2 separate regions of the Homo sapiens genome follow, and region 2 is linked to region 1. The links come from fine-mapping of genetic effects on gene expression. A gene starts in region 1. The other region holds a variant in brackets. All regions are shown on one strand. Distances are from middle to middle. Region 1 holds the start of LGSN (lengsin, lens protein with glutamine synthetase domain). Region 2 has its middle 32 kb from the start of LGSN.

Region 1 (11,205 bases):
TGGGTGGGGCCAGATAAGAGAATAAAAGCAGGCTGCCCAAGCCAGCAGTGGCAACCCACTCGGGTCCCCTTCCACACTGTGGAAGCTTTGTTCTTTCGCTCTTTGCAATAAATCTTGCTACTGCTCACTCTTTGGGTCCACACTGCTTTTATGAGCTGTAAAACTCACCGCAAAGGTCTGAAGCTTCACTCCTGAAGCCAGCGAGACCACGAACCCACCAGAAGGAAGAAACTCCGAACACATCTGAACATCAGAAGGAACAAACTCCAGATGCGCCACCTTAAAAGCTGTAACACTCACCGTGAGGGTCTGCGGCTTCATTTTTGAAGTCAGTGAGACCCAGAACCCACCAATTCCGGACACATTATTACTGATTCTACCTTGCTACTCATTATTGGTTTGTTCAGGTTTTCTATTTATTCCTTATTCAATCTTGGTAGGTTCTATGTTTCTAGGAATTTCTCCTTTTCCTCTAGATTTTCCAGTTTGTTAGTGTATAATTGTTTATAACAGTCTCTGATGATCTTTTGTATTTCTGTGATATCAGTTATGTCTCCTTTTCCATTTCTAATTTTGCTTATTTGGATCTTCTCTCTTCCTGGTTAGTCTAGCTAGGGATTTATTAATGTTGTTTATCTTTTCAAAGAACCAATGTGTTTGGTTGAACCTTTGTATTATTTTATTAGTTTCTATCTCATTGAGTTCTGCTCTGATATTTATTATTTCTTTCCTTGCACTAGTTTTGGGTTTGGTTTGTTCTTTTTGTTTGTTTGTTTTGTGTTTTTTAATCAAGTTCCTTAAGGTGCATCATTAGATTATATATTTGAAAATTTTCTCCTTTTTTTTTTTTTTTTTTTTGAGACAGAGTTTCACTCAGTCTTCTAGGCTGGAGTGCAGTGGTGTGATCTCAGCTCACTGCAACCTCTGCCTCCCAGGTTCAAGAGATCCTCCTGCCTGAGTCCCCTGAGTAGCTGGAACTATAGGCGCTCAACCACGCCCAGCTAATTTTTGTGTTTTTAGTAGGGACGGGGTTTCACCATGTTGGCCAGGATAGTCTTGATCTCCTGAATTTGTGATGTGACCGCCTCGGCCTCCCAGAGTGCTGGGATTACAGGCATGAGCCACCATGTGCAGCCTCCTGTTTTTTTTTTTTATGTAGGTGTTTATTGCTATCAACTTCCCTCTTAGCAGAGCTTTTGCTGTACCCCACACATTTTGGTATGTAGTTTTTCTATTTTCATTTGTTTCCAAAAAATTTTTTTTTATTTTCTTCTCAATTTCTTCATTGACCCAGTGACCATTCAGGAGCATGTTGTTTAATTTGCATGTATTTGTAGAGTTTCCAAAGTTCCTCTTGATGTTGATTTTTAGTTTTATTTAATTGGAGTCTGATAAAACACTTGATATAATTTTAATTTTTAAAAGTTTGTTTAGACTTGTTTTGTGTCCTAACATATAGTCTGTCCTGGAGAATATTCCATGTGCTCATGAAGACAATGTGTATTCTCAGTTGTTTTATAAAATTCATTTAATATCTTACACAATCACAGAACAGAGTTAAGAGAAACCTGAGATCATCTTGCCCTAAACCACATTTTGCACAAAAGGAAACTGTTATCAAGAAAACTATGTGATATGTCTTTAAAAAACAGTGTTTCCTATAGAACTCAAGTCTTTAATCTGCTGGTTGTTTCACTACAGCAGCAGTTCTGAAAGTATGGTTCAGGGACCCCTAGGGATTCCAAGAACCTTTGAGGAGACTGTGAGGTCAAAATTATTTTCACAGTAATGGTAAGACTCTATTTGCCTTTTCATTCTCATCTAGCATTAGTGTATAGTGAAGTTTTCCAGAGGTTGCATGACATGGGCTGTATCAAAAGAATAAATGCAAGCCGGAAGCGGTGGCTCACGCCTGTCATCCAGCACTTTGGGAGGCTGAGGCAGGTGGATCACCTGAGGTCAGGAGTTCCAGACCAGCCTGGCCAACATGGCGAAACCCTGTCTCTACTAAAAATACTAAAAGTTATCCAGGTGTGGTGGCGGGTGCCTGTAATCCCAGCTATCTGGGAGGCTGAGGCAGGAGAATTGCTTGAACCCGGGAGGCGGAGGTTGCAGTGAGCCCAGATCGCACCACTGCACTCCAGTCTGGGTGACAGAGCAGACTGTGTTTCAAAAAAAAAAAAAAAAAGAATGCAAAAACATACGAGATTCCAGTGGTTTTTCTCTTAAGCTAGACATTAGAGCAATTTGTGAAAATAAGAAATCAATTTTCTATAAAAAATGCTATTTATGTTAATATGTACAATGCCCATTATTATTATATTTTTAAATATGCTAATATTGATTAACATAACCTGTGTGTGTGTGTGTGTGTGTGTGTGTGTGTGTGTGTGTGTGTGTGTATATGAGGTTTTGGTGCTCTCAAGAATTTGTAGATATTATCACAATAAGTAGAATGATGCCATTAAAAGAAGGAAACAAGGACAACACCAGCTACCAATTTTTTAAAATTAATGGTGTTATAAAAATGTCTTCTGTGAATAGACAGTAGAGACTCAAAAGGGTGGAGTGGGATGAGTGATGAGAAATTACTTAACAGGTACAATGTATACTATTCCGGTGATGGCTACACTAAAAGCCAAGACTTCACCACTATGCACTATATTCATGTAACAAAACTGCACCTGGACTCCATAAATCTTACAAATAAAAAGAAATGTATTCTGTGGCACTCTCCTTCTAAAAATAGCTTGGGCTGTTTTGGAATAATTTTTAACTTATTATATGTGATTGCAAGCTCCTTATGTGCCTTGGAATTCAGAATTTCATGCTTCCACTTTCACAACTGACTTCATTTAACTTTATGAAGCTTGTGCTAAATATATAAATGCTTAAGGATATGTGAAAATCATTGAAAATGCTAAATTAAAATGATTTTAAACTAGTTTTAAATTGTATCAACTTTACAAAATAATTTTTTTCAGGGAGTTACGCTGTTTTCTACTCATTGCTTACTTAGGTTTATCGAAGGGGCAGATGAGAGGAGAAATTCCCTTTCTGAAACAAATGAAAAGGACACACAAAAATATTCTTCAGTTTCCCTGCCAATGTGTGTTTCCGCTCAGCCCTGAATTCACTGATTTTCTACCTGTCCTCACTCCAATATTTTTTAATCATCGGTTTTAAATCTTAATTCTGTAAACAGATCTACCATTTTCTTAGAAAATGAGGTATTTCTGGGAAGAACTGAAAAGAAATGGGGACTGGATTCATGAAAGGAACTTTTGGGGGCCTTTGTGAACAGGAGTTCTAGAACCACTAGGGAAGCTCAAATATTACTCCTTATAATTTTTGTATGATGTTATCTTCAATAAAGGGTGTCAATGTAGTCTTCCTGTTAGGTATGTCATAATTAGATGCATATAAAGGAGGAACAAACCCATGCAGCTTCTAGAACAACAACAAATCGGGAGAAAGGTAGGGTGGAAGTATCCTTCTGTCGTGGTTGTTATGTTCTTATGCTGACCTGAAACCATATTTTTGTGATTCATGAAGGTCATAAGAAAGATTATTTCCTTCACTGAACTTGGCTATTATTCTCACAAGTCAGTTATTCCCTTGGTCTCATTGGGCATGTTTTCACCCTATTTCCTTATCAGTTAGTGCTGGGAAGACAAGAACTTTGTATTTTATACACTGTACTGTAACATATAATATATGTAAACATGAAACAAAAACAGATTCATTGTGATTTCATTTTCTCCCACAGTGAAAGAATAGATTTAATCCTTTACCTAATTTGCATCCTTTGCTCTTCCAATCCTGTTCAATAATTCATCAGAAGGCAGTAACTTAGTGGTAAACAACATATTGTTTCCCCTTGTTGGTACTTAGTAAGCTTTAGCTTCTGCAATCTGTTCTCATGAAATGAATCCCATAATTCCTTTAATCATTTTAGTTACTCTTCTCTGGATCCATTCAATTAGATTACAACTTTTTGGCAGGAGAAGTACTTGAGTTGAACGGTCTTTCCATATGTTGTCTCAGAAGAGTGGTAAGAGAAAGACTTGTATCATTTACATTCATGGCTCAATGACTATATTCATTTTGACTAAGATAGCTTTCTGGATATAGTACAGATTGAACAAATGCTTGTGAATGAAAGTGTTTAATATGGACTTATTGACCATTTATTATTTTTCTAATCTATTTGTTAAGCCCTTTACTGACATTTGGTTTTTCCTTTGGAAAAACTGATTCTAAATAATGGTAATACTTTTAAAATATGTATCATGCTAATACCATAAATTAGGTTATACACCATATGTCCAACCAAGCTTTAGAACACTTTTTACAAAAATGGGCAAATCAAGGTTCAGGAAAGGATATTATAAAAAAATCATGGATACACATTGAGAAGAAGAGATTGTCAAAATAAGGTAAGGAAAAGAAGATGAAATGAATCAAATTGCATATTCAATAACAATAAAACTCCCAGGAGAAAATTTGGGTAAGTAGTACTATAAAGGAATGATTTTTTTAAAACATGTCCCAATATGTAACTGAACATGTAAACCAGCTTGGAGTTCTTTTCTTTGATATAGGAAAGGGAACATTTCTGAAACAAAAACGAAATTTTTCACAAAACATTTTTTTCCATAGCTCAATGGCACCTGTTTTGCATGGAGACAAGCACATGCAAGAAAAAGTTGTAAAAGTGGAAGCAAATGTGGTCTCAGAAGAGGATTGAGAAAAACTTAGGTAAGGCTCTGGTACAAGACATTGTGGGAATTAAACACCCTACTAGAGATCTGGGGGAAAGCACCAAGAGCAAGTCAAATACTAGGATAGGAGATAGAATCCCTTTTCTTGGGGAGGTTCAAGAGTCCAAAACAGCCATATTCAGGATGCAGTTTCAGGCTGGCATCAGCATCAGAACTAGGTCCAAATTCAAGATCTGGTTGTAGATCAGGCTACACAGAGCAGAAGCTTTAGAGTCAGTCATGGAACAAGTACCAATGGAATGGAAATAGGAATAGTTAATCACTGTCTTTAGGAAATGGGGCTTTTGAAATGGGCCAAGAGAGTCAGGCAGGATTGAGTGGTTGTAAGTATTGGCTTGGTCTTCCTCAGGCCCAGAAGACCAGGAAGAAGTGATTAGCCATGGAGACTATACACTTCCACATGGAAAATGCTTAGAGAGAATTTGGTTTGGTTCAGAAGAAACTGCATATCCTCCTTCATCAACAATACTTGAAGTTGAGTTGATAGCAGCAGAAGTGTGATTTCAAACCCCCTTTACTAGTGAAGAGAAAGCATTCCCTATTTCCTCTACTGAGTTAGGATTGTTTATGGGACCATATGGGGCAGCCTGTAGATGATTCTGTGTTCATTGTGCACAGTGGGGATGGTCTGGGATTTGTCACAGACTGACATCGGAGAATTGGAAAAGCTAAAGAAAGATATTTCAGTTTTATAATGAAGGTCCAGAATTAATTTGGAGGCCAGAGGGACCTAGAAAAGAAAATAAAAATGAGAATTACAAATGAGTGGATCTTTGCCATTGGTAAAAATCTGGGTCACTTATAGCTGTATTTTTCCATCTGTGCTTTTGTCTGTGGGCTTTGATAGCATAGTCGTCTAATAAGTGTTTCATCATCTGAATCTGACAATAGATATCATTCCAGAATACAATTGTTATGTAACAAAAATTCTGTATGTTGGAGAAAAAAATCAACCAACACAATTTTAAGCTTTGTATGTCTTTTGTTTGCAGGGAGTCAGGCGTAAACAAGCATTTGTCATTCGATTCTTCTAGTGCATTTCCAGCATACTGTGCCTTGGGCATGACACATCAGAATCTGATGTTTATCTTTTATTACCTGCCAGACCCCTCTGGAAAAGCCTCTATGGAATTCATCATCTGCAGTCTTTGTTGTAGGTACACATATAAATACATGTTGAATGCATTTGTTGAGGATATTGTGGTTTCTAACGCTGAACTTAAAAAGTGTTGAGATGAATAATGAAGAGGACCTTCTGCAGGAGGTATGAAGCTAATCATTAAAATGTTTTTAACCAAAATATTGACAGTAAATCTTTTTAAAAAATGTCAATTATTTGAATGCCAGTAAGAATAAGGGCAGCATAATTATACTTGTTATATGTCCACTCAGGAGAAGTTTATGAAGAATTGCCCTTCTGTACTACACAGTGAATTTATAAAGATAATAAAAACTAAACAATTCAAAATATTCATCTAGGAAAGCTCATTTGGTTTGAATAATCATTTAAGTTCAATAGGCACTGAGTTTCAGAAGCATAAGTATGCTATAAAAAAATTTATTTCTATTTTGGTTGTTATTGAGAGAATAATCTTTGTTTTTCTCAAAGCTTTGGCCTCTTTCTAATAAATATGCTTTGAGATTAAATGACTAAAGGTGGAAACCTGTTTTCAAATTATATTTGAAATGCACAGCATGAATAATGATAGCCACTTATAGGGTCTAGCATATATTAAAATAATCAGTTGTCAACATATAACATTTCTCCTCACTTCTTAATGTGTGTGTACCCAACCTTCACTCTTGTATTTCTGACTGACCATTCTGAAAGACTGAAGTGCAGACTTGGAGGCAAGCTGTGGTAAAATTTGGGAGGATGTGAGTTATCTTTAGTAGGTTAAGAAAATATAATGCAAGAAGCATACCTACTATGTGAAGAGTGCAGTGGAAGACCAGTGCATTATGTATGAAATAGTGGCATATAGAGAACAAACCTGGTCCCCACTTTTGCATGTAGTGGAGAAGATAGCTAACATCTAAGAATGGGTTCACTGATCTGTATAGTGAATACAAGCAGTTGTTTTGAAATAGAGTCAAGAACAAATGCACTTTCCCTAAGGGAAACTGGGCAAGGCTATGTGAAGAAGGCACTCCCTGAGGAGGAGCTGTGGCTTATCCTGTACTGTCATGTCACTGTTGTAGGCATCAAATGGTGGACATGTTTATGTGATTATAATGAATTTAGCTAAAAGTAAATTCATAGCTGCAAAGGAAGGCTTATAGAAAGAAAGTAAAGGTAATTAGCATATACATCATTAGCTTTTTGGGATTTTGATTTCTAACTATGTAACTTCTTGGACTAGTTTTACTTACTACTTCTGATCCCATGGCAGAACTCTGCTTTCTTCCCCAGCTCCCACAATTTTAGTCCAGGATTCCAGGTGATACAGCTCCCATGAAAGTCCTTAAAAGCCATGCCCTCCTCAAGACCAGTCTAGACCAAATGTTGATTGTTTACTCTTAGGAGAGCAGAAAAATGAACAATATGATTTTTAAACTGCACAATTCTCACAGCAAGAGACATTCTCTGTCTTTTGAGGAAAAGTTCCCTCAAAGTTGGAATAGAGCATTGTATTTACTAGATGTAATAAAGGTGAATCTTGGCTGGCCACTTGACCCAACTCCACTGAATAAGCTCTTTTATACTCTCCTGTATAGGTTCGCATTCTCAGGAAGTGAAAGAATATGGAAGGAGGGAGAGAGATGACATGTGACATTCCTTTTCCAGCTAACAGATGTTTGGAAAAGGACAAGACTGTGTTTCATGCTAGATGCTCTGGTAATGTGAGCAAGAGCAGCATGAAGTTAACTACAAAACACAGCAGCTGAACAAAAGCTCAGTGGATTCCGAAGGGCAGATTGTGTATATGGAGAAAATCCCTCAGAATACTTACTTCCCCAGTCTGAAGAAATTCTTTGTCAGAATATTCAGTAAAATGAACAGTTATTAATCTTAGGTTTGGTACTCCCCTAAAGAATATTTTACTGAGATTCTCTATTTAAAACAATGCTGTAAAGTCATGCATTCAGCTACATTCTTAGCAGTGGCAGACAAAAAATAGATTGAAAACACATTCTTACTTCTTAAAGTAGATCCTATGGGTGTATGAAATTGTGAAATTGAGTGAAAGAGTGGCATATCATAACAATTAAAATCTGTTTATCAAGAACCTTGTGTGTGGTGCTGAGCTGGGTAATATGTCAAGTGAGTAAGATCTGTTCCCCACCCTGCAGATATTTATAACTCAATACAGAGAACACTGACACAGGTAGACACAGTTCTGACGTTTCCATATCACAGAAGGAATGAATGCCATCTGGGGTGAAGTCAGAGACTCATCCTGCTCTGCAGCCTGTATCTGTTGGGGGCATGAAGTGCAGCCCCATGGGAGGCTCTACCTGACCTTCTAGAGGCTTGCTTCAAGAGGCTAGAGATTTACCTACCCCAGCTTTCCCTGCTTTATGCTATTGTCTGTGTGACTCTAGAGACCTCCTGATTCTTGTTTTGTATTTTCCATTTGTTTTGTCTCTGAGAATTCAGAAGATTTGTCTTCTGAAGATTTCAAGGTTTATAGTTCATTTTATAATTATTTACCTCAAACTTACCTACTTCCAGTGTATCAACTAGCTCTCCATTTAAGAATTCTCAGTGGAGAGACAAGACAAAAATTAGATTTGAGTTTCAAGGGCAGTGGATTAAGCTCGCACTTCCTGAAATGAGAATGCCTGCATTTTAATCTTGGCTCTGCTACTTACTAGCTGTGTGACATGGGGCAAAGTATTGGACTTCTCTGTACCTCACTGGGACATTAATAGTGCCTACAGGAAGGGATTTTGTGGAGATTAAATGAGTTAATACATGTAAAGTGCTTAGAACTGTGCTTACAATATAGTGAGAACTCATTAAAAAGGAGTCATTCATTACATATACTTTATTATGTTATGTTGACCTCTAATAGCTCTCCTGTTTTCATTTTTACAGCCTTAAAGAGTTTTACATGTTTTCCTTTACATGATAGAATTTGTTTGCTTATGATAGTAATGATAACAATTATATATAATATACCTTTTTACATAAACATATATCCATCCACTTCTAGCCTATTAAGGCTTTCCTAAGGCACAATGACTAGAACTATTTTTAGCAATCAGTTACAGGCATATCATAATTTTTTTAAAGGGTAGAGCACCTTCCCCTCTCACATTTAAAGTATTTTTATATTCATATTTGCAGTATTTTTATATGCTGCAGCAGCCCATTAGCTGATATCTTCACGAACAGTTCCATAACATTCTTGGATCTTTTTTCATACTATATTACAGAGCCCATTATCATAAATATATATTATATATACATGAATATTTAAATTTTTTCTACATGTCTTTTTACCTTTGAAATATTTTTGTTGCTTTTCTGCTCACCCACAAAGCCTTCACAAATTATTTTTGTCCTGTCTACATGGATAAATATATTTTTAGCCATACGATCTTAATTTCTCTAAAAAATATGGAGAATTCTTCTTTGATTTAATTATGAACATACTAAATAAAACAAAACTTTTTGCTTCCTTTATTATTTTAGTGTTCTTTATTATTTAGCTTCATATTATCAAAATCACATGGTGTTAGACCTTTGTAAAATTATGTTTTTCCTTCTCTGAAAATGTTTGGTTAGGTATATTTTTCTTGTGTAGAACTTCTATTGTAGATTTTGCATAACTTGCCCACAGAGGTGAGATTTGTTTATGGGTTGATACACACTGTTGACTATTAGCCAATTTGTTAGAAATAAAAACGAGACTCATAGCTTTTCATATGGGAGCAGCTATATCATTTACATTCTGATACTTCTTTCACACAGAGCTCTCAGTAATGATCGTTGCTCTATCATTCTCGGTCACATATGAATGTTCCACCTAATCTGCCAACTTAGGTCTAGGTTATTATCTTGTAAAAGTGGTGAGGATTAAACAGTTAGAAAGTGAAAATTTGATTGTAGAAGTGGAAATTAACCAGGTTGACCCTGACATTTGGCTAATCTCCCCACAAATGTGCTTGGAGATGAGAAACTCAACACTTTGACAAATAACCCATTCCATTTTGGGCTTATTATATTAAGTAAAATTCTGATTCATTGCAAATTCCAAGCAATTTATCTGGATTTTCCTTCTGTGCTTTGTTTTACTTCAAAAGATAGAGATACTATTGAACTCTCACTTGAAATGTGGAGTTTTTTTTTTTTTTAAGACCTGGATTTCCTTAGTTTTCTGTATTTTGTCACATATAAAGTTTGTAAGTAGCATGAAGAGATGAAATAAGAGTTGTAAACCACACATATTTGAATTCTGCTATGTTCTAGCTATGAAGCCAGTCAAGTTGCTGCATTTATCAGATCCTCAGTTGCCTCACTGAAATATATATCTATATATTTATATAGATATATAGAGAGTGAGAGCATGCATACACACACACACACACACACACACACACACACACACAGAGAGAGAGAGAGAGAACATTTTAGCTATTCTTCAGAAAAGCAAGAGAAATAATGTTTTCTCAGTATCTTAAGTGGGGTAATCATAACCGTGGTGAAAAGGCCTGATATTGAGGGTAACTACTGTGAAAAAACCCTAAAGAAAAGGTAAAATTTATAGAGTAAAGCTACAGAGGCATTGTAGAGCAGGCTTTCACTAGCACAAGCCCATCTAAGTAAAGAAGCACAGGTCTAAGCCCTTCTAGAGAAAACTTTGAAGAAGTCCATGCCATATTTTATCTAGGAAAGCTGTTTTGACTGAATCATCCTAGTGGGTTACCATCAGGTCTTGCTGACATCCAAAGAAGTCTCATTTAGAATCTTTTATAAAGGAGAAGTCTGAGTCAAATGTCCTTTCTGGCCTTATACTTCAACATGGTAGGTCTTGGTTATAATTAATTAATTAGAAATTATTTACTCAATTACTACTTTATGCTAGGCAATATGTTAGGCACAAGGATACATCTAAATGCCACCTTCTAAGAATCTTCAGTCTTTGACATGTTCTTCTTGTCATCCTTTCCTGACTTGACTTCTTATCCCATCTGTCTTGGATTCCATATCCCATTATTTTAGCATCTTCCTTGCCCAAATCCTCAACTTATTTTTGTCATTGTCCTTCTGAGTTTGTGACCTCATGAAACCTTAAACCATGGTGTCTTCACATTTCCAGCTGAGCTTTGCTAGAGAAAATAATTACCTGTGCAGATTGGTGTCACTTTAAACTTTAAAACCTCCAATTCTTTCTGGGCCCTTGATATTTTTCTTTCTTGAGTCGGCTCTTTCTCAGTTTCCACTATAACTATGTGAAACAATTTCCATTCT
Region 2 (11,205 bases), 32 kb before region 1:
AAAAGCCAAAATTAACAAATGGGATCTAATTAAACTAAAGAGCTTCTGCACAGCAAAAGAAACTACCATCAGAGTGAACAGGCAACCTACAGTATGGGAGAAAATTTTCGCAACCTACTTATCTGACAAAGGGCTAATATCCAGAATCTACAATGAACTCAAACAAATTTACAAGAAAAAAACAAACAACCCCATCAACAAGTGGGCAAAGGATATGAATAGACACTTCTCAAAAGAAGACATTTATGCAGCCAAAAGACACATGAAAAAATGTTCATCATCAGTGGCCATCAGAGAAATGCAAATAAAAACCACAATGAGATACCATCTCACACTAGTTAGAATGGCGATCATTAAAAAGTCAGGAAACAACAGGTGCTGGAGAGGATGTGGAGAAATAGGAACACTTTACACTGTTGGTGGGACTGTAAACTACTTCGAACATTGTGGAAGTCAGTGTGGCAATTCTTCAGGGATCTAGAACTAGAAATACCATTTGACCCAGCCATCCCATTACTGGGTATACACCCAAAGGATTATAAATCATGCTGCTATAAAGACACATGCACACATATGTTCACTGAGGCAGTATTCACAATAGCAAAGTCTTGGAACCAGCCCAAATGTCCAACAATGATAGAGTGGATTAAGAAAATGTGGCACATATACACCATGGAATACTATGCAGCCATAAAAAAATGATGAGTTCATGTCCTTTGCAGGGATATGGATGAAGCTGGAAACCAGCATTCTCAGCAAACTATCGCAAGGACAAAAAACCAAACACCGCATGTTCTCACTCATAGGTGGGAATTGAACAATGAGAACACATGGACACGGGAAGGGGAACATCACACACCGGGGCCTGTTGTGGGGTGGGGGGAGGGGGGAGGGATGGCATTAGGAGATATAACTAATGTTAAATGACGAGTTAATGGGTGCAGCATACCAACATGGCACATGTATATATATGTAACAAACCTGCACGTTGTGTACATGTACCCTAAAACTTAAAGTATAAAAAAAAATTGGGGGTTGTGATTTTAACTTACATTTCTTTGTAACCATAAAGATGCTTTAAAGATTGGAAGACAATTGGTCATGTTGCAGTTTTGGCACTTAACATCCTATATTTTCAGGAGAAGATATCTCTTCTCCTAGGTATATGCATGGCACAATTCCTCAGTGTCTGTTCACATCTTACCTTCTCTATCCAAATGTCACATCTTTGACTACCTTACCTAAACATGCCTCATCTCTTGACTGTTACTTTTATTTCTTTTACTCTGCTTTATTTTTATTTTTCTTATTTTTTAACTTTTTGAGACAGAGTTTTGCTCTTGTCGCCCAGGGTGGAGTGCAGTGGCATGATATCAGCTCACTGCAACCTCTGCCTCTCAGGTTCAAGCGATTCTCCCACCTCAGCCTCCCGAGTAGCTGGGATCACAGGCACGAGCCACCACACCCAGCTAATTTTTGTATTTTTTTAGTAGAGATGGGGTTTCATCATGTTGTTCAGGCTGGTCTCGAACTCCTGACTTCACGTGATCTTCCTGCCTTAGCCTCCCAAAGTGCTGGGATTATAGGCATGAGCCACTGTGCCTGGCCTGCTTTATTATTATTTTTTTAAATGTGGACTATGAGTTGAATTGTTTTTCCCCAAAACGATAACTTGAAGTCCTAACCTTCAGGATCTCAGAATGTGATCTTATTTTTAAATACAGTGTTTGCAGATGTAGTCAAGATGAGATTATTAGGGTGGGCCCTAGTGCAATATAACCGGTGTCCTTATAAAAAGGGGAAATTTGGACATATATATATAGATGTGCGTAGAAGGAAGAATATGTGAACAGATACAGGAATAACACCATGTGAAGACAGAGTACTGGCGAGGTCCAGTGGCTCACGCCTGTAATACCAGCACATTGGAAGGTCAAGGTGGGTGGGTCACCTGAGGTCAGGAGTTCACAACCAGCATGAGTAACATGGTGAAACCCCGTCTCCACTAAATACAAAAAATATTAGCCAGGCATGGTGGCACATGTTGTAATCCAAGCTACTTGGAAGGCTGAGACAGGAGAATTGCTTGTACCTGGGAGGCAGAGGTTGTGGTGAGCCAAGATTGCACCATTGCACAACAGCCTGTGCATCAAGAGTGAAACTCCGTCTCAAAACAAAACAAAAAGACAGAGTACTGGAGTGATGCATCTACAAGCCAAGGAATGCCAAAGATTGCCAGCAAACGACTAGAAGCGAGAGAAAGGCCAGGAAAGATTTTCCTCCAGGTTTCAGAGACAGCATGGCTCTGTGGACACTTTGATTGAACTTCCAGCCATAAGAATTAATGACACAATAAATTTCTGTTGTTTTAAGTTACCCAGTTTACAGTACTTGGTTATGGCAGCCCAAAGAAATGAATACACCACCTGGCATAGGATGTACTCTTTTTGTTGTTCAATTTCTGCCTGCCTCTACTAGACTAATTACCATGAGGAAAGAGACAAAGTACATTTTCTTCACTTTTGTGCCCCAAGTACTTAGAACAGTGCCCAGCACTCAATACATATTTGCCAAGAGAATGTAGGGATATTTTATTTTTCATTTTTTTTTAAATTGATACATAATATTTGTATGTATTTGTAGGGTACATGTGATATTTTGTTATATGCATAGAATGTGTAACCATCAAGTCAGGGTATTTAGGATACACATCACCTTTTCCATTTATCATTTTTATGTGTTGGGAACATTTCAAGTCCTCTGTGTAGCTATTTTGAACTATACAATACATTGTTGTTTACTGTAGTCACCCTTCTTTGCTATGGAACTTTAGAAACTATTCTTTCTTTTTCCTCCCCTACACCCACACCCACACCCATACCCTTCCTAGTCGTTAGTAATTGTCATTTTACTCTGTACATCCAAGAGATCAACTTTTTTTTTTTCTCCCATATATGAGTGAGAACATGCAATATTTGTTTTTCTGGGTCTGGATTATTTCACTTAACATAATGATCTCCACTTCCATCAATGTTGCTGCAAATGGTATTATCTCATTCTTTTTTATGGCTAAATAGTATTCCATTGTGTATATGTATCATATTTTCTTTAATCATCTGTTGATGAACACAGGTTGATTCTCTGTCTTTGCTGTTGTGAATAGTGCTGGAATAAATATGTGAGCGCAGATGTCTCTTCAACATACTGATTCCTTTCCTTTGGATAATTGCCCAGTAGTGATAGATCATATGGTATTTCTATTTTTAGTTTTTTTGAGAAATCGCCATACTGCTTCCATAGTGGCTGTACTAATTTACATTCCCATCAACAGTGTACAAGAGTTACCTTTTCTTTGCATCCTCACCAGCATCTGTTATATTTTTGTCTTTTTAATAATAACTATTCTAACTGGGGTAAGATGGTATCTCATTTTGGTTTTAATTTACATTTCCCTGATGATTAGTGACGTTGAACATTTTTTCATGTATTTGCTGGCCATTTGTGTGTCTTCGTCCAAGAAATGTTATTCAGACCTCTTGCCCACTTTTTAAAGGGATTATTTATTTATTTTTTTTGCTGTTTGAGTTCCTTATGTATTTTGGATATCAGTCCCTTGTCAGACAAGCAGTTTGCAAATATTTTCTCCCATTCAGCAGGCTGTGTTTTCATGATATTGATGGTTTTCTTTGTTGTGCAGAAGCTTTTTAGTTTAATATGGTACCATTGTCTATTTTTATTTTTGTTACCTGTACTTTTGAGGTCTTAGCCATAAAGTCTTTGCCTAGACCAATGCCCTAAAGTGTTTTCTCTAGGTTTTTTCCCTAGTAGTTTTATAGTTTGAGGTCTCATGTTTAAGTCTAATCCGTTTTGAGTTGATTTTTATATGTAGTGAGAGATAGGGGTCTAGTTTCATTCTTCTGTGTATAAATATCCAGTATTCTTAGCACCATTTATTGAAGACGGTGTCCCTTTTCCCAATGTATATTCTTGGCAACTTTATAAAAAAAATCAGTTGCCTTATATGTAGACTTATTTCCAGGTTCTCTATTCTGTTTCATTGGTCTATGTGTCAGTTTTTGTATCACTGTAATGATGCTTTGGTTACTATAACCTTGTAATATATTTTGAAGTCAGGTGGTGTGATGTCTGCAGCTTTGTTCTTTTTGCTGAGGACTGCTTTGGCTACTCAGGCTCTTTTTTGGTTTCATGCAAATTTTGAGATTGTTTTTTCAATTTCTGTGAAAAACATTATTTTTTCTTTTTTTTTTTTTTTTTTTGCTACAAACTGCTTCTTTCTAAAAGAGAAATCTAAGTCCAGGTATTAATGAAGTAGGAAAAATTTCAATAATTATAAGAGTATAGTAGAAAACTTCACCTTACGTTCTGTTATGGTTCCCTACAAAATACTCTGTGATAGAAGCTATTTCTCTGGTAGGGAGAGTCTTAAACATCTGTGAGCATATCCAGGAAGGCACTGTTGCCAGGGATGGGAACATTTTCTGCACAGGAGACCCTGTTAGGTACTAAGGATCAGGTTTTCCTGTGTGTCTCAGGATGTTGCCTATTGCCTCTTGCCTGTTGGGTCTGCAACAGAAATCTGCAATTTCTGGCCAGACTGCTCAATTTCCTTC[C/T]CCTTTGGTGTTACTGACCTCTGCTGTTAAAAAGCAGCGCCTCTGCTTGCCTCTAAAGCTACTCTCTGGTTTCCAACCATTAAAACATTCAATAACCAATCTCATCATTCTGGAAAACAAATATCCTGGAGCTCAAAGGCTACAGAGACTTTTCCAATTATTTCCTAAAATGGCTTTTTAGATTTGAAAGTTCTTCTGTGAGAACCAGGGTCACGTGTCTGTCTTCAGCGTTACAGAGAAAGACAGATGGAGGTTGTTGCGCTCACAAGAGAAAAGGAAACTTAAGGCAGCTTCCCCTTTTCTTGACCACCGGATGTGTCTTCTGCAACTTCTGTGAACTCCAGTAATTGAGGTCATATTGTGGCATTAAAAAAAAATCCAGCTGTTTGCATGGTTCCCTTAATCCTTACTCTTATCTAATTCAACCACCTAATCTGGCCAAGAAATGTGAGGGGAACAAAATTCTATCCCTTTGTTTGAGAGACAGATGAACAGTCTCTAACATAACCCACAAATAAAACTGTGTGTCTGTGTGTGTGTGTGTGTGTGTGTCTGTGTGTGTGTGAGAGAGAGAGAGAGGAAGAGAGAGAGAGAGAGACAGACTGGAGTGCGGTGGTGTGATCATGGCTCAGTGAAGCCTTGATGTCCCAGGTTCAAGCAATCTTCCCGCCTCAGCCTCTTAAGTAGCTGGGACCACAGGCATGTACCACCACACCTGGTGAATTTTCGTATTTTTTGTAGAGATGGAGACTCTCTATATTGCCAGAGCTGGTCCCGAAATTCTTGGTTCAAGCAATCCTGCCTCAGCCTCCCAAAGTGCTGGGATTCTAGGCGTTAGTCACTACACCTGGCCAAACAAAACATTTTTAAGATTATTGATCTTAGTGGAGTCCTTGTGATAAGGCATAAGCATGACATTCCAAAATAGAAAGAATACAAAACAATGGATTTGCGCATAAATATCTCTACTAACATGTGAGTTTTGGAAAATTCCCTATTTCATGAATCATTAGCTTGTAAGTTTTGTTTTGATGTTATACAAGCATTTCTAAAACAAGTCTGTGTAGATGTTGCCACCTACTGTTTGCCTAGAAACATCCTTCATATAATTCATTTCATGTAACAATAGTCTTTTTTCTAATTGCATTTATTTTCCAGGAAGGTCATTTCTGTCTCAACCATTTCTTGTTTTAAAATTATTTGTCTATTTGTTACTTACTCTTAAGTACCATATCTACGAGGTCATTACAAGAAATTCTTTCTTTATACATTGGAAAATCCTGAGGCAATGACACAATTTTCTTTAAATGTTCTCTGATATATTGAAACAGTAAATCAGTCTCAGGTTTAAAAAGACTATACAGTATATGTCATTGAAACATCATTTAAAAAATTATTAGTCTCCATGTAAATCAAAGTGGTCAAGATCATTAGATTGCTGTTAGTTTTATTTTGACATTCATATTTAAGATATTTAGGCTGAGTGTGGAGGCTCATATCTGTAATCTTAGCCCTTTGGGAGGCCGAGGTGGGTGGTTCACTTGAGGCTAGGAATTCGAGACCAGAGTGGCCAACATAGGAAGACCCCGTCTCTACTAAAAATACAAAAAATTAGCCTGGCATGGTGGCGGGCACCTGTAATCCCAGCTGCTTGAAGCTGAGGCACAAGAATCACTTGAACCTGGGAGGCAGAGGTTGCAGTGAGCTGAAATCGCACCACTACACTCCAGCCTAGGTGGCAGAGTGAGACTCTGTCTCTGTTTCTGTCTCTCTTTCTCTGTCTCTCTCTCTCTCTCTCTTCCTCTCTCTCTCTCTCTCACACACACAGACACACACAGACACACATACACACACACACACAGAGATATTTATAAAGCAAATATCTGCTTTTTTTCCTTCCTTTTGTCTTAATCTTTTCAGGCTGCTATTAGAAAGCACCATAAACTGGGTGGCAGATAAATATCAGAAATGTATTTCTCACAGTTCTGAAGTTTGAGAAGTCCCAGAACAAGACACTGGTAGCTTTGGTGTCTGGTGAGGGTCTGCTTCCTCACAGACAGGGTTTTCTCACAGTAACCTCACATGGTAGAAATGGGAAGGGATCTTTCTGGGGTCTCTTTTATAAAGACACTAATCCCATTTGTGAGGGTTCCATTCTGATAACCTAATCGCCTCTCAAAGGACCCACCTCTTATGTTAACCTTGGGGGTTAACATTTCCACATATGAATTTGGGTGGAAGAGACACAAATATTCAGAATATAGCACTGTAAATAGTTTTGGATGTTAGTGATTGAATGGCAAATTCTTTTTTATTAGGATAAAAAACCAATTGTTTTACTTACCAATTGGTCGTCTGAACTCGTTTTTGTTTGTTTGTTTTTTTTTTTTTAGATGGCTCTGTGGCCCAGGCTGGAGTGAAGTGGCACCATCTCAGCTCACCGTAACCTCTGCCCCACAGGTTCAAGTGATTCTCTTGCCTCAGCCTCCTGAATAGCTGAGATTACAGGTGTGCGCTGCCATGTCCAGCTAATTTTTGTATTTTTAGTAGAGAGAGCGTTTCACCATGTTGGCCAGGCTGGTCTGGAACTTCTGACCTCAGGTGATCCACCCACCTTGGCCTCCCAAAGTGCTGGGATTATAGGCGTGAGCCACCACCCCTGGCCTGAACTGTTTACTTTGTAGTTAGTTTTATGATGTGCCTGTGGCACTATTTTCAGTATGCTGTTTATTAAAACTGGAAATAAAGTAAAAAATTTTAAATCTTCACAACCAGGTTAATTTGAATGCACTGAGATAATTTATGGTTTGCAGACAAATAACTATGACTAGATCCAGTAATAATTATAATTACAAATCTGTAAAATATTTTCCAGTTTGTGAAGTCCTTTGTATATTTTAATAAATTTGGTCCTACTAACAACCCTGTGAAATAATTAATATAGTAATTGCTTTCATATTATAACCAAAGAAAGAATGAAAGAAATCAAGGTAATAATTGAATAGAACACAGCTAGAATAACTCTATAAATCCAGTTTTCTTAACTAAAAAGCTTACTCACTTTTACCATTCCTCATGAGTTAATTATTAGGTTGGTGCAAAAGTATTTGCGGTTTTTGCTAATTACTTCTGCACCAACCTTAATAATTTACATGATAGGTACTGAACTCTTTTTCAACTTTTCCTTGTTGAATGAATAGTTTTAAAATGCTTTCAAATAATCAAACATTCTTCTAAATCTTTGGGTAGGTCTCTAATAACTGAAATGGAACTATATTCATCTTCTGTGAAGCTGGCCTGGATAAACCAGCTTATCCCTAAATGCCACCAGAATGCGTTGAGAAGTGGATTGTTCCCAGTCTCCGTAGAAGGACTCAGCCTACCCAACACCTTGATTTCAGTCTTATGATAACTTGAGCACAGAACTCAATCACGTCGTTAGTACATCTCATCTACAGAAGCTGTGCTATCATAAATTTGTGTTATTTTAAGCCCTTTTTATTGTAAGACTCTGGTTCCTGTTTCCTTGCTGGTTGTTGGCCAAGGGCACTTTCAGCTTCCAGAGGCCATCTGCATTCTTTGCCATGTGGTCCTCTCCATCTTCAAAGCCCGTGGTGGAAAAACTCTCCCTTGTCGAATTGCAATCATAGTTTGAATCTCTCCAACTTCCCTGTTGCTGACCTCTAAACACAGATTAAAGGGTTTGTGATTAGGTCAGACTTTCTTAGAATGTTTCTCAACCTTAACTGATTTGAGGCCATAGCCACATCACAAATCTTTTCACAGCAACACCTAGATTAATGTTTGATTGAATACCTAGGAGAAGGTGTTTTTGCACCAAGGGTTGGGAATTTAGGGGCCTTTTTAGAATTCTACCAACCATGTTTCTCATCAGCTACAAATATTTCCTAATTTAGCCCCCAGTCTCCAGTCTCTGCCTTAATACTCTCACAATTTACATTACAGAGTGGCTTCTTAATGAATCATTCCAAAGCACAGTTCTGATTAAGTTTATTATCTTACTTAAGTCAATAACAACAAAACAACCAAAAGTTTGAGGGCAGCCTATGGCATGTAAGAAGCTCTTTGAAAATCAAGGTCTAAAGGACTCCTGTTTCTCTTCCTTTCTTCATGCATCATTAAATTGAGTATTCACCTTGTTTTTCTGTGCACAGTAAGCTCAGTGCTTTGACTTCTGCCCCCTTTTCCTTATCTTCAACTTTACAGGAACAATTCTCGATTGCTTGAAGGCTGCATTCCAATGCTAACTCTTCCAAAGAACTTTGCATTAACTTGTTCCCCTTTGAAAGCCTTTACTACGTAGTTTTAAAAATCTATACTTCTGGCCAGGTGTGGTGGCTCATGCCTGTAATCTCAGTGCTTTAGGAAGGCGAGGCAGGAGGATTGCTTCAGGCCAAGATTTCGAGACCAGCCCGGGCAACACAGCAAGACCCCACCTCTATTTTAAAAAAGCAAAAAAAAAAAAAAAAAAAGTAAAAATCTTCATTTCTAGTGTAGTTAGTATCCTACTTTGGGTTAAGATACTAAATAATGCTCCATGACTCCTACCAAACACAGATTACTGTAGGCCAGATGTGCAATAAGATGTTGTCTCTCTTCAACATCTACTAGTGCCTTGTAGAGATGATATGTTCCAAAATATTTGTTGAGCCGTTAACTAAAAAATCAAAATAGAAACTAGAATGCCATGCGCACCAAGAGCTCGTAGACCTGCATTGTGAATGCTTAATTACATTTCCATATATTTTTTTTTTTCTTTTGAGACAGAGTCTAACTCTGTCGCCCAGGCTGGAGTGCAGTGGTGTGATCTCGGCTCACTGAAACCTCCGCCTCCTGGATTCAAGCAATTCTCCTTCCTCAGCCTCCCGAGTAGCTGGGATTACAGGCATGCGCCACAGCTCCCAGCTAATTTTTGTGTTTTTAGTAAAGACGGGGTTTTGCCATGTTGACCAGGCTGGTCTCGAACTCCTGACCTCAGGTGATCTGCCCATTTCTGCCTCCCAGTCCATACTTTTATATTAGTCTGTTCTTTCTTTTGTGGCTGCTAGTTTTCAAGGTCATTGTCTCCTGAGCTGCTGTATTTACGTTAGACTATATTCTTCAGCTCTTGGCTAATATTGAATGACTAGCTTATTTATGCTTTCTTTTGTTATAAATCAGTGGTTTTATTTGTTTTTTTCTTACTTGGAGAAAGGAGTTTCTCCTCCAATTTTAAGAAAATTTTCAAGAGCTAGAAGCAGACTTGATCTTATATCTTATTTTCTTATTCACACAATTAACCTTTTTCTAATATTAGGAATATTTCCCTACAAGTCATTCCTGACTAATGGACTCTGCTGTATGAGTCATATATGACTTAGCAAGCATTTTGGATTTTTAAATAAGTTACCGCTTATTTAAGCAGGCTGCAGAAACATTAGTCATTGTGAGATTCAGCTTACATGTTTTCACTTAGTGACTAATTGAGTATAAGAATGGAACAGATATTTACGTGGTAATTTTCCAAATTTTCAAAAGACTTTGGCATCAGTTATCTTATTTCATGAAATGTGTCACTGTAAGATAAGCAGTTCCTTATCTTAGAGACCTCTCTAGCCTTTTAAGCATACTGGAAAAAGCCATCTTGGAAAACAAATGAATGAATGAAAGAATGAATGAGTGAATGAACTGATGGAATAATGATGGATTAGAAAAGACACTGAAGCAGGAAAGTCATAGACCTTGAAATTATATGTCTGAACAGTAAATTAGACCTTATAACTTAACTGAAGAGCACAAAGAAGACCTAAATCAATAGTAAACCATATTATTATAACCCTCCAAATTGTAAAAATGTCAATTTCCCCCAAATATTTAGTTAATGCAAATTCAAAGTACTTTGGAGTTCTTTTTTTTGTTTTAAAAAAGACTGGTTTTAAAATTAATCAGTAAGGAAAAATACATAAAACTAAGAAATTTTGAAAAGAAATAATGAAGTAAGATTTGCCCCATGAATTGTTTTTCCCTCTCCTACTCACCACTCATTCTCAGTTCCTCACTTCTGACACCAGATGGGTAGGATTTATTTTTCCCCACATACTAATTCTCCAGCAAACATCAACTGGGTGTCTCTGGTGGCACAGAGCTTCCAATCCCTTGAAATTTCCTGGATGATAGGAGTGCCTCTTGTTCTAATGAGGCAACTTTTGGTGGGCATCTGAATGGAGGCTGGTAACCAGAAAGACTAAGCCATGATTTGAAGACTGGAACTTTCATACTTCGCCAGGAGATGCTACCCCTCTCAGCTTCTCCATGTGTTCAGCAGTCCATAGGTCTCCCAATTCATTGTTTAGGGATTTTTATGGAGGCTTTTTCAAGAAGGCATGACCGAGCATTAACTCAATCTCCAGCTTCTCTCCTCTTTCAAAAGGATGGTGGGGTGAGCTCGAAAGTTCCAGGCCTATAATTCAATTCAGTTCTGGTAATATCTACCTAGAGTTAGAGTCACATCCTATAGGTTAAGGGCTCAGTCTCACAGGATTGCCCCCACTTCAGAGGCCAACTGCAATCTGGG

The links.
Region 2: its variant is fine-mapped to the expression of LGSN in whole blood (TOPMed, PIP above 0.99).

Annotation. Positions count from the first base shown.
Region 1 is chr6:63,314,757-63,325,961 of GRCh38, reverse strand. LGSN (lengsin, lens protein with glutamine synthetase domain) reads left to right here and starts at 5,979. Exons shown (of 4, transcript NM_016571.3): 1 at 5,979-6,048. The coding sequence starts at 6,019.
Region 2 is chr6:63,346,661-63,357,865 of GRCh38, reverse strand. It overlaps a transcript of LGSN not described here. Among named protein-coding and RNA genes, the nearest start is that of LGSN, 32 kb to the right of the region's middle. RefSeq lists enhancers at 4,624-4,713, 4,814-5,083, 5,154-5,263, 9,536-10,735. The variant C/T (reference allele first, on the strand shown) is at 4,632.